2 separate regions of the Homo sapiens genome follow, and region 1 is linked to region 2. A link means that fine-mapping ties the variant in region 2 to the expression of a gene that starts in the linked region. Tissue or cell type: whole blood. Region 2 holds a variant in brackets; the other region holds the start of a gene. All regions are shown on one strand. Distances are from middle to middle.

Region 1 (8,104 bases), 120 kb after region 2:
TTAAAAAGAATTAAAAATGAAGCTCAGATATGTGAAGTAGTTAATCCAGCTCTTAAGTACCAAAAAGACATTCAAATTCAGTCTCTATTCATCAAACTTCCCAAATGCTAAAGGCAGCAAAAACTCCTGCTCCCGACCTAAGAACAAGGCCTGTGATCCTAGTTTGTGGAGTAGCTGGAGAATTTTCCAGAAGTCTCTTTAACTCCTCAGAGAAAAGAACACTTTCCCCTCTTCTGCAAGCTTGCTCAGTTAGGCCTTGGAGAGCCTAATGGGTGTGGCTGTGCGGGGGCTGGACCATGCACTAAACCACACCCACCCACCAGGCAACAGACGGAAAGACACAGACAGCAGGGCGGGTGGGCATGAGGACTCCACACCAGGTCTCTGAACCCATCTCCTGGAATGCCGTAGGTCAGGCTGTGGCAGTCAAATGGCTGCTTTCTGCTGAGAAAGGATGAACTATGACTTCCCCTGGGAAAGTAAATAAACCTTGACAATAGGGGAGGCTGCTCAGTGTGAGCTTGGTTTGCACAATCGTGTGCTCAGTTATATAACGGAGGATTGGATTGCGCAGTTTTCTCCTTGTTGAGAGGAAGCTCTTCCTGGAGCGCCCACCAGCTCCTCCCTCCTCAGGAGAGGGGTGTGGCTGGATCCTTGGCAACGCTTTGGTCCCCTAACGGGGGAACTGCTGGGGTGCCTTCTCCCTCCTGCAATCCCCACCTTATCCCACAGCCCCTTGGAGACTCTGCTCCTAAGCCACTAGGTCTGGGTCAAGAACCACACACAGGCAGCCCAGGGGGCCAGCTGGGCTGGGCAGTGACCCTCCTGCCTTGACTCAGGGCTCTTGAACTCTTAAGATTTTGCCTCCCCTACCCTGTGGCCAGGGCCTTCACTCTAGTTGAAGTGTCTTCACTGGACCCAGCAGAGGCTACAGGGCCCACTGAGTCCCTTCAAAACTTACTGTTTCCCTCCTACACATTCCTTTCCTGAAATCCCTTCAGACTTTGCCACAGAATCATCACATAGCAGAGCTGCAAGAAGGCCTGCAGATCGCTGAGCCTAACCTCATTTTACAGATGAGGTCCAGAGAGGGGACACATTAATGGCAGAGCTGGGACATGAGCCAAGTCTTTTTTCCAGCCCAATCCTCTTCCCACATCACTGTATTACCTCTCAAAGGAATGAATTGCTGTTGATGGGATTTATGGCCCTAGCAGAGGTGGGTTTTCAGTATGAGATCCTAGGCACCCCTCGAATCACTATCTGTCTATCCCATCTGTGCCCACTCTGTCCCCGAGTGGGTGGGCTTCGAGCTACTTCTTCAGCAGGGGTGACCAGCTCATGCTTGGTCCTCCCTTATTTGGTACACCCAGCTGTGATCCATGTGGTTGAACCTCTTGGCGTAAGAACTGAGAAATGAATCTCGGTAGCCCCTGCTTTCACATGTCTGGGCCTGGGCCAAGATACCAGAACGGGAATCAAGGTGCCAGGTGAGCAATCACCAAGCCTGGGTATCAGGTCGACAGGAGGGGCACTGTGCATTGGTGAACCTGGGCTCCCTGAAAATGCCAGTTATGCTTAAGACATCAGGCAGGAACCAGGACACCCCAGGAGAGTCACTCCACCTCCTGCAGTGGTCAAGATGCCCTTTCTGCAAAGGTCCCTCTGCCCACAGAGCCCTCATTCAGGGCTTCCTGAAGATGTTCCCAGCCGCGTAAGTCCATGCCAGCTAGTGTGCTTCAGGCACAGCTGAGAGGCAGGAGGCATCACGCAGAGAGCATGTGGCTTGTCACAGATGGTGCTGAGGTTCACCCTGGCTGTCTTGCTGAGTAGTTATTTTCTGTGGAAGGTCCTTCCTTTCCTGGAATTGGGAAGAAGGCCGCAGAAAGCTCAGGAGTCCCCTCACTTACAGACTGAGCTAGTTCAGTTTATCCAGTAGGTCACTCATCAGCTTGACCCACACTCTGCAAACACAAACATCAGGCCATTCAAGCTGGGCACACTCCTGCCCCCAGCCTTTGCACCTGCACCCCAGGCAGCAGCTTGGCTGCTCCCTAACTCTTCAGGTCTATGCCAGTGCCACCCTTCAGTGAGGCCTTCCCTTTCCACCTGGCACTCCTCTCCCCTCTTTAAAGTTTTATTTATCTCCATATTACACATCATCTTCTAACATACTTTATAGTTTACAAATGTATTTTGTTTATTATCCCTCTGCCCCTAGAACTGCAAATCCCACGAGGGCATGCTCCCCGCTGTGCCTCAGTTCCACAGTGAGCAGTTCCTAAGTACCGCCCATGCCTCCTCAGCGCCTCCTAGGTGTGGAAATTTGGGAAAGAAAAACTGCTTGGAGAGCACTCGCAGAGTTTTTGCTGCTAAGTCAGACCAAGTGGGGCCAGTGAAAGGCCCCCTATTATCCCCCAAACCTAGCTCCCTGAAGGAGGCAACCGTTACACCAGAAAACAATGTTACTTTCTGGAGAAGTGTGGCTTCCTGAAAATGTTTATTTTAAATTATGCTGGATGCAGAGGAGGCTGCACAGTGGTACCGAAACAGCCACCAACCCCAAGGTCCTCAACAATTTTCCACCAACAGCTCATCAATCCCAGCAAAGGGCTGTCCTGGAAGCGGGCCTGCCAAGTGCATGGGTCCCCCTCACCTCCCACCTCCAGCCACAAGCTGAGCCCTCACAGAACTTCCAGGACAACGAGTGTTGCCTGTAGGGGCGGATCCAGGCTTTGCGGAACCTGAAGTTTAAACAATGGGAGGTGGGCTATGGAGGGGGCATTCAACTTTAAGAAAAAAAAGTCAAAATTAGGATTACAACATTGCTAGGCACCCCACCTCCAAGATCTCGGGAGCCGCCAGGGCAAGGAAGGAGCCAGAAGCTCAGAGAAAACCGACATCTGCCAGGGAGGGAGGCAGGCGGCCACTCGGTCTCCGCGGCGCTTTTGCTCAGGTTGACCACATTCCCTGGCTTCAACTACAAGGTGAACTCCCGGGCAAGTTTCCTGTTCTACAAGAGGAGAGGGCTGGCCTTCAATCCCGAGACCAGAGCGAGGGGGTGCCGGGCGGCGGCTGCGGCAGCAGATGGAGATGAAAGCGCATTTCAACTAAAAGGTGTGATCAGTGTCAGGCCTCTGAGCCGAAGCTAAGCCATCATATCCCCTGTGGCCTGCACCTACACATCCAGATGGCCGGTTCCTGCCTTAACTGATGTCATTCCACCACAAAAGTGAAAATGACCTGTTCCTGCCTTAACTGATGACATTGTCTTGTGAAATTCCTTCTCCTGGCTCATCCTGGCTCAAAAGCTCCCCTACTGAGCACCTTGTGACCCCCCCCACTCTGCCCGCCAGAGAACCCCCCTTTGACTGTAATTTTCCTTTACCTACCCAAATCCTATAAAACGGCCCCACCCCTATCTCCCTTGGCTGACTCTTTTCGGACTCAGCCCGCCTGCACCCAGGTGAAATAAACAGCCATGTTGCTCACACAAAGCCTGTTTGGTGGTCTCTTCACACGGACGCGCATGAAAATCAGTGTTCCGACTTGGGTGACAAATTAAGTGCATTTCACCGCCGAGCGAGCCACGGCCCTGGAAGCAGAGCTCGCCCAGGCCAGGGGACGCGGTGCGCTCTCGGGGTCGCGAGCCTCCCTCCCTGCGGCGTCCGCCCACAGTCTGGGACGCGGAATTCCCTGCGAGAAGTCCGCGGTCGCCTGCAGGCTCCTTCCCCCAGTAGGCGGCACGCGCAGTCTCCTGGCCGGGGCAGGAGCTGGGGGCGGACCAACTACAAGTCCCTCTGCACCCCTGCGGGCCGACCGCAGCCCCGACCCCTCGGCGCCCCGGCCCGCCGCCCACCCCGGCGGCCGAGCCCGCGCGGAGCCCGAACCGCGTCTGCGTCCGGGGAGTGCGGGCCCGGCCGGCCCCGGGCGCTTACGGTCTCGGCTCGCAGGCTCCGGCGGCGGCAGGCGCGCGATCTCTCCGGCTCCCTGGCTCTCCTCGGCTAGTTTTCAGCAGCCCCGGCGCAGTCTCCGCCCAAGCCCGGCCTCCGAGCGGGGCGTTCCCCGGCCTGGAGGACCCGGGAAAGTCTCTAGGCCTGCCTAAGGCTCCACCTCTGCCAGGGATAAAACGGGCTACTTAAAGGGCGGTCCGCGGCCCCGCGGCCAGAAATGGAGAGAAGCGTTTGGCAGCTCCTACAGCAGTTTGATCCCGTAACTTCGTCAGTTGAATCTAAAAACAAAAATCCAAACTTGCATGATGTATGTCCTTTTTTTTTTTGGAGACAGAGTCTCACTCTATCACCCAGGCTGGAGTGCAGTGGTGCGATCTCGGCTCACTGCAGCCTCAAGCGATCCTCCCACTTCGGCCTCCAGAATAGCTGGGACTACAGACTGCGCCACCACACCTGGCTAATTTTTTAAGTTTTGTAGATACGGGGGTCTCACTTTGTTGCCTAGGCTGATCTTGAACTCCTGGGCTCAAGCGATGCACCTACCTCCGCCTCCCAAAGTGGTGAGATTATGGGCGTGAGCCACTGCACCTGGCGGTGTATGTCTTTTTAATTTCATCTTTCTAGCAATTCATTCTTAGTATATTTAACAAACATATTGGTCCGTGACATGCTTGGAAATCTAAAAACAAATTAGTGTCTTTATACAGAGAATGTGAGAAGCAATGGTCTGAAGCACTCTTGGGGGTCTTCATGGTGAGGACCAGTATAGGATGCTGAGTTCAATGCCAGGGGAGCAACCTCTTAGTGAATCCCCTCCCGCTTTGGAGAGAGCTCAGGGCCCAGGCGGGTGGTTGCTGGGGCTCTTTTAGCTTCCGTGAGAGCGTTGATCCCCAGCCCCTCATCGTTAGAAAGCCTGTCCCATCGCCTCTGCCATCACCCCTCCTTAGCTTCTCTCTTCACCTGCTCAGAGGTGCAGTTCTTTCAACCACCAGCATCCTCACGATCTCGGTGGACAGACTACAGCTAGGAGGCCACATGCAGGGCCCGTGGCTGGAGTTCTAAGCTTCTGACTGTCACCTTGCACACTTCAGGATAAGGTTCACCACCACCCACCTTCCCTTGGCCTCCAACCTTTCTGCTCACCCTGGCCCAAGAATTCTGGCCGGCAGACGCACTCACCTCACTCCCACCTCCAAACTTTTGCTCTTGCAGTACTGCCGGACAGGGTGCCCTCCTCCATCCACATGTAGAGTCCTCTTGTCCTTTAATTCTACACCCTCCTATAAAAGCTTTCTCTTGCAACTGCAGTCTCTGACATCTCTGTATTCCTTTCAGAACCTGCAGTCTGGGAGAGTTCTTTCCCCTCCCCTCCAAATAGTTCACACAGAAGCTCTGCCTCTGGCCACTTCACCAGGGGACCCAAATTCGTTACTCTTAAAACTGCAGTGATGGTGAAACAGGTAGGAGTCAGGACTTAACGCCAGAGGTGGGGCTTGGACACCAGATTGAGGACCAAATTGAGGACTAGCTAAAACAGGGACTGGGTGGAAGATGAGCATAAGATATGCCCATCATATCAGTGTGCCATGTCAGTTTACCAGGGCACGCCCCTGGAGTTATCACCCCCCTTCCATGGCAATGACCCGAGGACCCAAAAGTTACTACCCTTTTCCTAGAAATGTCTGCATAAACTGCCCCTTAATCTGCATGTAACTAAAAGTGGGTATCAACATGACTGCAGAATCGCCCAGAGCTGCTGCTCTCAGCACACTGCCTGTGGGGCAGCCCTGCACTGCAGGAGCAGGCCCCCTCTGCTGCTGCTGGACACCGCCACCTCCATAAAAGTTGCTGTCTCACACCACGGGCTCTCTCTTGAATTCTTTCCTGGACAAAGCTAAAAACCCTGCTGGGCTGAGACCCAATCTGGGGTCTCAGCTGCCCTGCATCAAAACTCTTCTAAAATTAGATATTGGTGATGGTTACATCACTACAAGTCTGTAAATATACCAAAACCCGTGAAATTTTACACTCTTAAAGGGTGAGTTTTATGGGTATGTGAATTATGTCTCAATACAGTTGTTATTTTATTTATTTATTTGTTTGTTTTTGAGATACAGTCTCACTCTGTTGCCCAGGTTGGAGCGCAATGGCACAATCTCGGCTCACTGCAACCTCCGCCTCCCAGGTTCAAGTGATCCTCGTGCCTCAGCCTCCCAAGCCGCTGGAATTACAGGCACTTGCCACCACACCCAGCTAATTTTTGTATTTTTAGTAGAGATGGGGTTTCACCATGTTGGCCAGGTGGGTCTCAAACTCCTGACCTCAAGTGATTTGCCTGCCCTGGCCTCCCAAAGTACTGGGATTACAGGCGTGAGCCACCAGGTGTGGCCAAAGCTGTTGTTTTTCAAAAACTGCATTAAAATGGCAACCTCTTGTATCCTAATACCCTCCTACTTGGTTAATCATCCATCCAGCGTTGGGCTGCGAAATCTAAAATAGTGCAAGATATTTCTAAGTACAGTCTACATATGGGCAGTGTAGAAACAAATGCATCAGAGTCCAACTCAGCAGGGCAAAATTTAGACAGATTTTCACTGCTTTTGGCTAAAAGCCATTGAAAGGTTTACGGGGCAAAAGAATGGGTACAGTGTGCTCTTTAGAATAAATTATATTGTGTAAAAAATCAGAGCAAGGCTGTTGTTCTGCATAAACATCTGGAGAGTTTCCAGGTACATCAGGTAGAATGAAATAATGTGTGGGAGGCAATCTTGGATAAAAATTGTAGATCAATTCCTGATTCAACAAAAAGGAAACAACATTGTTTCTGCCAAAAATGCACAATATGGATAGAATCATGAGGAAACATTGCACAAACCCGACATTAACATTCTACAGGCTGGGTGCGGTGGCTCAGGCCTGTAATCCCAGCACTTTGGGAGGCCGAGGCAGGTGGATCACCTGAGGTCAGGAGTTTGAGACCAGCCTGAACAACATGGAGAAACCCCGTCTCTACTAAAAATACAAAATTAACCCAGCATGGTGGTGCATGCCTGTAATCCCAGCTACTTGGGGGGCTGAGACAGGAGAATCACTTGAACCCAGGAAGCAGAGGTTGTGGTGAGCAGAGATCACACCATTGCACACTCCAGCCTGGGCAGCAAGAGCGAAACTCCATCTCGAAAAAAAAAAAAAAAATCTACAAAATAGCTGGCTTGCACTTTTCAAAAATGTCAGTGTGAAAAAAGGGCAATGTAATGAAAGATATGGAAAGACTGAGAAGCTCTTCCTGATTAAGGGGGACAAAAGAGCTGCGAAACCTCATTGCAGTGCTCTCTGTTCTAGATTGGATCCTGGCCCAGAAAAAAAATTTATATAAAGAATATTGTTGGGACAATTGGGGAAATTTGAAGGAGTTCTGTAGATTCAATAATAGATTATATTAATGTTAAATATCTTGAGTTTGAAAACTGAATTGTTTCTTAAGTGAACGTCACTGATCTTAAAAAAATGTACACTGAAGTATTCAGTTGGTGCAAAGGTATTTGCGGTTTTGCCATTACTTTCAATGGCAAAAACCACAATTACTTTTGCACCAACCTAATATTTAAGGAATCATGTTTGAAATTTAAAATGTTTCAGTGTGTACACATATATAGGAACTATATGTGTGTGTGTGTATATATGTGTGTATGTATATATATGTGTGTGTGTATATGTGTGTGTGTATATGTGTGTGTATATATGTGTGTGTATATATATACACACACACACAGAGATATTGAATTAGAAAGCAAATGCAGCAAAGTGTTAACAATTAGTGTCTGGGTAAGACATGTATGGGAGTTTTGCAACTTTACTGTAAGTTTACTGCCATTAATTACCATTATCTACAGCTAATGACATTCAGAGGCCCCATAACAAAACAGCTGACTCCCTATTTGATCACCTGCCATTGAGGCCAATCAGTTTACTACCCACCACACACAGAACTTTCAATTGATGTTTTAGTGTCTCATTTCTAAATACTGAAGGATCACCAAACACTTGGGCAAAGCCTGTGACATGAAAGGCAAAGCCCAAAATAGAGAAAAATTGCTCACAGGCAACAGAGACAAGGCAAAAAGCAGAAAAATCTTCAAAGAAATCACAAT
Region 2 (8,101 bases):
TCTCTACTAAAAAAACAGAAACTAGTCAGGCGTGGTGGCGGGTGCCTGTAGTCCCAGTTACTCAGGAGGATGAGACAGGAGAAGAATCACTTGAACCCTGGAGACGGAGGTTGCAGTGAGCTGATATCACACCACTGCACTCCAGTCTGGGTAACAGAGTGAGACTCCATCTCAAAAAATAAATAAAATAAAGCACAGCACATGTAATTATATATAGTATATAATACTTGATAAGTGACTGTTACTGTTATGTATTTACTATACTTTTTATTATTTTAGAGTACTCGTTCTACTTATTAAAAAAAAAAAGTTAACTGTAAAACAGGCTCAGGCGGTTCCTTCAGGAGGAATCCAGAAGAAGGCATTGTTATCATAAGAGATGACAGCTCCGTATATGTTATTGCCCCTGAAGACCTTCTACTGGGACAAGATGTGGAGGTGGAAGACAGTGATATTGCTGATCCTGACCCTGTGTAGGCCTAGGCTACTGTGTGTGTTTGTGTTTTATTTTTTAACAAAAAACTTAAAAATTAGAAAAAAAATAAACTTTTTAATAGAAAAAGTTTATAGAATAAGGATAAAAAGAGGCCAGGCGCGGTGGCTCATGCCTGTAATCCTAGCACTTTGGGAGGCCGAGGTGGCAAATTGGCTGAACTCAGGAGTTTGAGACCAGCCAGGGCAACATGGTGAAACCCCAACTCTACTAAAATACAAAAAAATTACCTGGGCATGGTGGCGCATGCCTATAGTCCCAGCTACTCGGGAAGCTGAGACAGGAGAATCACTTGGATCCGAGAGGCAGAAGTTGCAGTGAGCCGAGATCACACCACTGGACTCCAGCCTGGGCAACAGAGCAGGACTCTGTTCCCCTCCAAAAAAATAAAAGAATAAGGATAAAAAGAAAAATATTGTATAAATCTGTACAATATGTTTCTGTTTTAATTGTTATTACAAAAGAGTTGGCCAGGTGTGGTGGCTCATGCCTGTAATCCCAGCACTTTGGGAGGCTGAGGTGGGCGGATCACCTGAGGTCGCGAGTTCAAGACCAGCCTGACCAACATGGTGAAACCCTTTCTCTACTAAAAATATAAAATTAGCCGGGCATGGTGGTGCATGCCTGTAATCCCAGCTACTCGGGAGGCTGAGGCAGGAGAATCACTTGAACCTGGGAGGCAGAGGTTGCAGTGAGCTGAGATCGCACCATTGCACTCCAGCCTGGTGACAGAGTGAGACTCCGTTTCCAAAAAAAAAAAAGAGTCAAAAAGTTTCTTTTTAATTTAACGTTTATAAAAAAGTTACAGTAAGCTAAGGTCAATTATTAAAGAAAGAAAAATTTATTTTTACAAATTTAGTGTAGGCTAAGTATACAGTGTTGATAAAGTCTACAGTAGTGTACAGTAATGTCCTAAGCCTTCACATTCACTCATTACTCACTCACTGACTCACCCAAAGCAACCTCCACTCCTCCAAGCTCCATTCATGGCAAGTGCCCTATAGATGTTGTGCCATTTTAAAATATTTTACACTATATTTCTACTATATCTTCTCTATGTTTAGGTATGTTTAGATACACAAATACTTACCATTGTGTTACGATTGCCTACAGTATTCAGTACAGTAATATGCTGCACAGGTTTGTAGCCTAGGAGCAATAGGCTACACCACATAGTCTAGGTGTGTAGTAAACTCCACCGTGTAGGTTTATGTGAGTGCGCTCCATGATGTTTCCACAGCAATGAAATCGCCTAACAATGCATTTCTTAGAACACATCCCCATCGTTTTTTTTTTTTTTTTTTTTTGAGTTGGAGTCTTGCTCTGTCACCCAGGCTAGAGTGCAGTGGTGTGATCTCAGCTCACTGCAGACTCCGCCTCCCAGACTCAATCGATTCTCCTGCCTCAGCCTCCCAAGTAGCTGGGATTACAGGTACCCGCCACCGCGCTCAGCTAATTTTTGTATTTTTTAGTAGAGGCAGGGTTTCACCATCTTGGCCAGGCTGGTCTCCAACTCCCGACCTCATGATCCATCTACTTTGGCCTCCCAAAATGCTGGGATTACAGGCATGAACCACCGCACCAGGCCAATATCCCCATTGTTAAGTGAGGCATGGCTGTACTTCGGGATAAAGGACTCTCTATTTCTTACCTGCAAAGCTAATTAATACTAACTAAATAATAAGAGAAAAATAGGCTGGGTGTGGTGGCTCATGCCTGTAATCCCAGCACTTTGGGAGGCTGAGGCGGGTAGATCGCTCTAGGCCAAGGAGTTCTAGACCAGCCTGGCCAACATGGTGAAACCCCATCTCTACTAAAAATACAAAAATTAGCTGGGCATGGTGGTGCACACCTGTGATCCTAGCTACTCAGGAGGCTGAGGTAGAGAATCACTTGAACCTGGGAGGTGGAGGTTGCAGTGAGCCGAGATTGTGCCACTGCACTCCAGCCTGGGTGACAGAGCCAGACTCTGTCTCAAAAAAAAAATTAAAATCATAACAGAAGAAAAATAGAGCTAAAAAATGTCTAAAGAGGGCCAAGATTTTCCAGTTGGGGTATTGTAAATACCAGGGCATATGGTTGCTTTGTGTACCAGAAGGATATCAATATCCACCTGAAGAACTCTACCAGTTACACAGTGATGTATCTGTGGCTCTAAAAGATCTGTGGATTCCCAGGCAGTCACATGCAATCAGTGACAAAGATGGGCCTGCTCACACCAGGCTGAGTGTGAGCTAAAAAAAAAAAAAAAATGTAGGAGATTGGCTTCATTTCAAAATGTAAGGCGTGCTCATTAGGATAGGGAGACAGTGTGGTAGACAGAACGCTCTCCCCAAAGACACCTGGGCCCTAATCCTTGCAACCTGTGACTGTTATGTTACATAGCAAAAAGGACTCTGCAGATGTAATTAAGGTTACAAACCTTAAAATAGGGAGATTATCGTGGATTATCTGAGTGTGCCCAATCTAATCACATGAGCCCTTCAAAGCAGAGAACTTTCTCTGGCTGGAGGCAGGAGAGATGAGGTAGAAGGGAGAGGTCAAAGAGATCTGAAGCATGAGAAGGACTTGCCCTGCCATTGCTGGTCTGAAGATGAGGGAAGCCATGAGCTAGAGAATGTGAGTGGCCTCTAAAAGGTGGGCTGACTCCCAGCTGATAGCCAGCAAGGAAAGGGGACCTCAGATCTACACCCACATGGAAGTCGAATTCTGCCAACACTTGAATGAGTCTGAAGGTGGATCCTCCCCCAGAGCCTCCAGATAAGAGCCCAGATTATCAGCTGACATGGGGATTTGTCTTTATGAGACCTGGAGCAGAGAAACCAGCTGAGGCTACTCAGACTGTTTTTTTGTCTTGTTTTGTTTTGTTTTGTTTTGTTTTGTTTTAAAGACAGGGTCTCACTGCCACCCAGACTGGAGTAAAGCACGATCATAGCTCACTGCAGCCTCTATCTCCCAGGCTCAAGTGATCCTCCCACCTCCCTCTCCCCAAGTAGCTGGGACTACAGGCTCATACCACCATACTGGCTAATTTTTACAATTTTTGTAAAGACAGGGGTCTCCCTACATTGCCCAGCATGGCCTCAAACTCAGACTTTAAATCTACAAAATGTGAGATAAAGTTGTTTCATTTTAAGCAGCTAAATTTGTGATGAATTAATACAGCAGCAATAGAAAATTAATACAGACAGTAAGCCAAATCCCATTAGAAGTAGGATGTAATTACAATTTTTTTTCACTTAAAAGATGAAATAAAGGGCCAGGTGCAGTGGCTCAAGCCTGTAATGCCAGCGCTTTGGGAGGCCAAGGCAGGCAGATTGCTTGAGCCTGCGAGTTCAAAACCAAACTGTACAACATAGTGAGACCATCCCCATCATCTATACTTTAAAAAATACAAAAAATTAGCCAGGAGTAGTGGTTGTAGTTCCAGCTACTTGGCAGGCAGAAGTGGGAGGAGTGTTTGA[G/A]CCTGGGAAGTTGAGGCTGCAGTGAGCTGTGATGATGCCACTACACTTTAGCCTGGGTGACACAGCAAGAACTTGTCTCAAAAAATAAATAAATAAATAAATAAATAAATAACATTAAAGATAATTTTTAATGTATTGCAAACCACCCATAATCCCACCATCCTAAAACAAAATTATTTTGGTTTTTGCATATCACCTGTTTCCATGCAGCATGAGTAAATACTTATTTTAAAAACCAAGGTTTTGGCTGGGCACGATGGCTCACGCCTGTAATCCCAGCACTTTGGGAGGCCGAGGTGGGTGGATCACGAGGTCAGGAGATGGAGACCATCCTGGCTAACATGGTGAAACTCTGTCTCTACTAAAAAAAAAAAAAAACAAAACAACAAAAAAAATTAGCCAGGCGTGGTGGTGGGCACCTGTAGTCCCAGCTACTCGGGAGGCTGAGGCAGGAGGATGGTGTGAACCCGGGAGGCGGAGCTTGCAGTGAGCTGAGATCCCGCCACTGCACTCCAGCCTGGGGCGACAGAGCGAGACTCTGTCTCAAAAAAAAAAAAAAAAAAAAAATCAAGGTTTTGGCCAGGTATGGTGGCTCACGCTTGTAATCCCAGCACTTTGGGAGGCCAAGGTGGGTGGATCACCTGAGGTCAGGGGTTCGAGACCAGCTTGGCCAACACGGTGAAACCCCGTCTCTACTAAAAATACAAAAATTAGCTGGGTGTGGTGGTGCACACCTGTAGTCCCAGCTCCTCAGGAGGCTGGGGCAGGAGAATTACTTGAACCTGGGAGGCAGAGGTTGCAGTGTGCTGAGATTGCACCACTGTACTCCAGCCTGGGTGACAAAGCTAGACTCCGTCTCAAAAAAAAAAAAAAGTTTTTCTTATCTTTCTTTTTTTTTTAATTATACTTTAAGTTCTAGGGTACTTGTGCACAACGTACAGGTTTGTTACATATGTATACATGTGCCATGTTGGTGTGCTGCACCCATTAAGTCATCATTTACATTAGGTATATCTCCTAATGCTATCCCTCCCCCCTCCCCCTACCCCACAACAAGCCCTGGTGTGTGATGTTCCCCTTCCTGTGTCCAAGTGTTCTCATTGTTCAATTGCCACCTATGAGTGAGAACATGCGGTGTTTGGTTTTTTGTTCTTGCGATAGTTTGCTTTTTTTTCTTTCTTTTCTTTTTCTTTTTTTTTTTGAGACAGGGTCTCACCCTTTTGCTCAGGCTGGAGTGCAGTAGCAGGATCTTAGCTCACTGTAACCTCCACCTCCCAGGCTCAAGTGATCCTGCCACCTCAGCTTCCTGAGTAGTTGGGCCTACAGGCACGAACCACCACACTCGGCTAATTTTTTATTTTTATTATTTATTTATTTTTATTTTTTTATTTTTTGGTAGAGACAGGGTTTTGCCATGTTGCCCAGGATGGTCTCAAACTCCTGAGCTCAAGTGATCCTCCTGTCTCAGCCTTCCAAAGTGTTGGAATTACAGGCATGAGCCACTGCGCCCGGCCAAAATCAAGTTTTAATGTGCTTATTGCATGGGAAAAAGAAGTGAAGAGAGTTATTCTCCAAAAGGGTCACATTTGTTCTAAATCTTTGTGTGGTGGAATTGAAAACAATGTTTTTCCATTTGTTCTCTTTCTTTTTTGTTTTTTCGAGGCAGAGTGTCACTCTGTCGCCCAGGCTGAAGTGCAGTGGCACGATCTCAGCTCACTGTAACCACCGCTTCCTGGGTTCAAGCGATTCTTGTGCATCCGCCACCAGAGTAGCTGGGAGTACAAGCGCAGGCCATGATGCCCGGCTAATTTTTGTATTTTTAGTAGACAGGGTTTTGCCACGTTGGCTAGGCTGGTTTGGAACTCCTGTTTTCAAATGATCGCCTGCCTTGTTCTCCCAAAGTGCTGGGATTACAGGAATGAGCCACTGCACCCAGCCTTCCATTTGATCTCATTTCTAATTTTTCTAAAATAAACATGGATTATTTATGCAATAACAAAAAGAATGCAAAAATGCACTCAAAAATGCGCCTCTTTGGAGAGGCTCCTAGGACAGGGAGGATTGAGGGCCAAGGCACTTGCCATCTGTTTATCTGGGAGCAGCACAGGCTTCTCTCTCATTTCCTAGGTCATCTCAGTTCTTAGGAGAGACTGGCCTGCTGTTTAGAGATAGGAGAGACTGGCCTGCTGTTTAGAGGGAGGCCCTGAGGCCCTGATAGTGAAGAAGCAGAAGTAGACAGAAGTGAAGCAGTATCCATTTTGTCTGAGACAGCTGGAGAGGGCCATCAGGCAGGACAGAGGGGAGTGAAGAGGGAGGAAGGGTACAAACAGCAGAACCTGACTGGTGGATGAGAGGATGGGAGTAGAGGGGTGAAGGTGGGCAGTCCTGGCAGCTTTGTGGACGTGTCTGCTCCGAGACAGCAAAAGGATAGTGGGTGCCCAAGGAGACAAGTGCCAGCAGGGACTGAGCATGTCCCATGGCAGGATGGCAGTGCAAGGCTGGGGTGTCCTTTAGGGTGGCTGGATGGGAACGAAGGGCTTCCCCTCTCCTCTCCTCAACTTCAGTTCAGAGGAACTCCACAGGCATCAGATGTGACTGCCTTAGAAACCAAGGCAGTGGCCACAGCACCAAGGAAATGGGACGTTAGAGTCAGCAAGGTCATTAAAAGAGAATAAAATGGTCTTACCTATATTTAAAATAGGTAACAGGCTGGGTGCGGTGGCTCATGCCTGTAATCCTAACACTGGGAGGCCAAGGAGGGAGGATTGCTTGAGGTCAAGAGTTCAAGATCAACCTAGACTAACATAGTGAGACCCCGTCTCTATTTTATATATATATTTTATATATACATATATTTGGGTTTTTTTTGTTTTCTTACTTTGTTTTTATTTTTTGTTGTTTTCTTTTCTCTTTTGCTCTTTTTTATTTCCATCTTATATTTTTAAAAAATAAAATATAATAGATTTTGTATATATAAACTTTAAACTTTGGAGATGAAAAAATAATAGATCAAAACTACCACAAAAAAGAACAGTTTGTGGTCAGTGGCTCACTTGCTGCCCTAAGTCCAAACTGAGGGGAGCAAGTGCTTTTGCTACTCCGTGTCTTATGTGGCCAGTCCTGGCTGGGGATGAAGCCAACACTGGGGGTCACCAACATGGCCTCTTTTTTTTTTTTTTTTTTTTTTTTAGACAGAGTCTCACACTGTCACTCAGCCTGGAGTGCAGTGGCACAATCTTGGCTCACTGCAATCTCCACCTCCCAGGTTCAAGCAATTCCCCTGTCTCAGCCTCCTGAGTAGCTGAGATTATAGGTGCCCGCCACCACATCCGGCTAATTTTTTGTATTTTTAGTAGAGATGGGGTTTCACCATGTTGGCCAGGCTGGTCTCGAACTCCTGACCTCAGGTGGTCCATTCGCCTCAGCCTCCCAAAGTTCTGGGATTACAGGTGTGAGCCACCGCACCCGGCCATCCTTTCTTAGGCTTTTGCAGTTCTCCCATTTCACCCTGGCTCCCGGAAGCGGAAACGGGAGATATCAACGCAAGGCAACCAGGTAAGGGATGGGTGTATGTAAGGGGTCAGAAAGGAGTGAGACACAAGTGTCCCCCACACCTCACTCCAAAACACACATTCAGCTTCAGCACAACCTCCTGTATTGCAGGTCAGATCCAGAGCTCCCCACAACAGACCACAGCCAGGAAAAGCAAAGGGCCCTGCAGTGCCCTGGTGGACTATGGGGAGGGTGAGTATCCTGCAGAGGAGCAGGCAGCATTAGGAAGTTGTGAAGGAGGGTAAACCCCCAACTTCCTCACTACCTGACAAAGACTCCTCTACAACAAAAGGGAGGCCAAATGCAGGCAAACAGAAATGAGACAAAGAGAAGAGGGGAAGTGCTGGCAGCGCAGTGTTCTAGTTCCATTCCTGAGGTCCTGCTCTCTGTAGGTGCCCCTTCTGGTCTGTGAGCTCCCCTGTGCCTCTCCCAAGCGCTGTACAGAAGCCCCCCTTTTCCTTCAGCCAGTTTGGTTTCTGCTGGGTTTCTGGTTTCAGAGCTTTACGCTGGTAACCATTAGGCTATGCTGCAACATGGCAGCTATGGGAGCTCTTAAAGCCCCAAACCACTGGACCTTACAAATCTCACTTCT

Evidence for each region. PIP is the estimated chance that this variant, and not a neighbour inherited with it, causes the effect.
Region 1: it holds the start of EPHX1, and the variant in region 2 is fine-mapped to the expression of EPHX1 in whole blood (INTERVAL, PIP above 0.99).

Annotation. Positions count from the first base shown.
Region 1 is chr1:225,806,004-225,814,107 of GRCh38, reverse strand. EPHX1 (epoxide hydrolase 1) reads right to left here and starts at 3,984. Exons shown (of 9, transcript NM_001136018.4): 1 at 3,939-3,984. RefSeq lists a silencer at 3,807-4,026.
Region 2 is chr1:225,926,625-225,934,725 of GRCh38, reverse strand. No RefSeq gene overlaps it. Among named protein-coding and RNA genes, the nearest start is that of PYCR2, 6.4 kb to the right of the region's middle. RefSeq lists a cis regulatory region at 5,836-6,488. The variant G/A (reference allele first, on the strand shown) is at 3,958.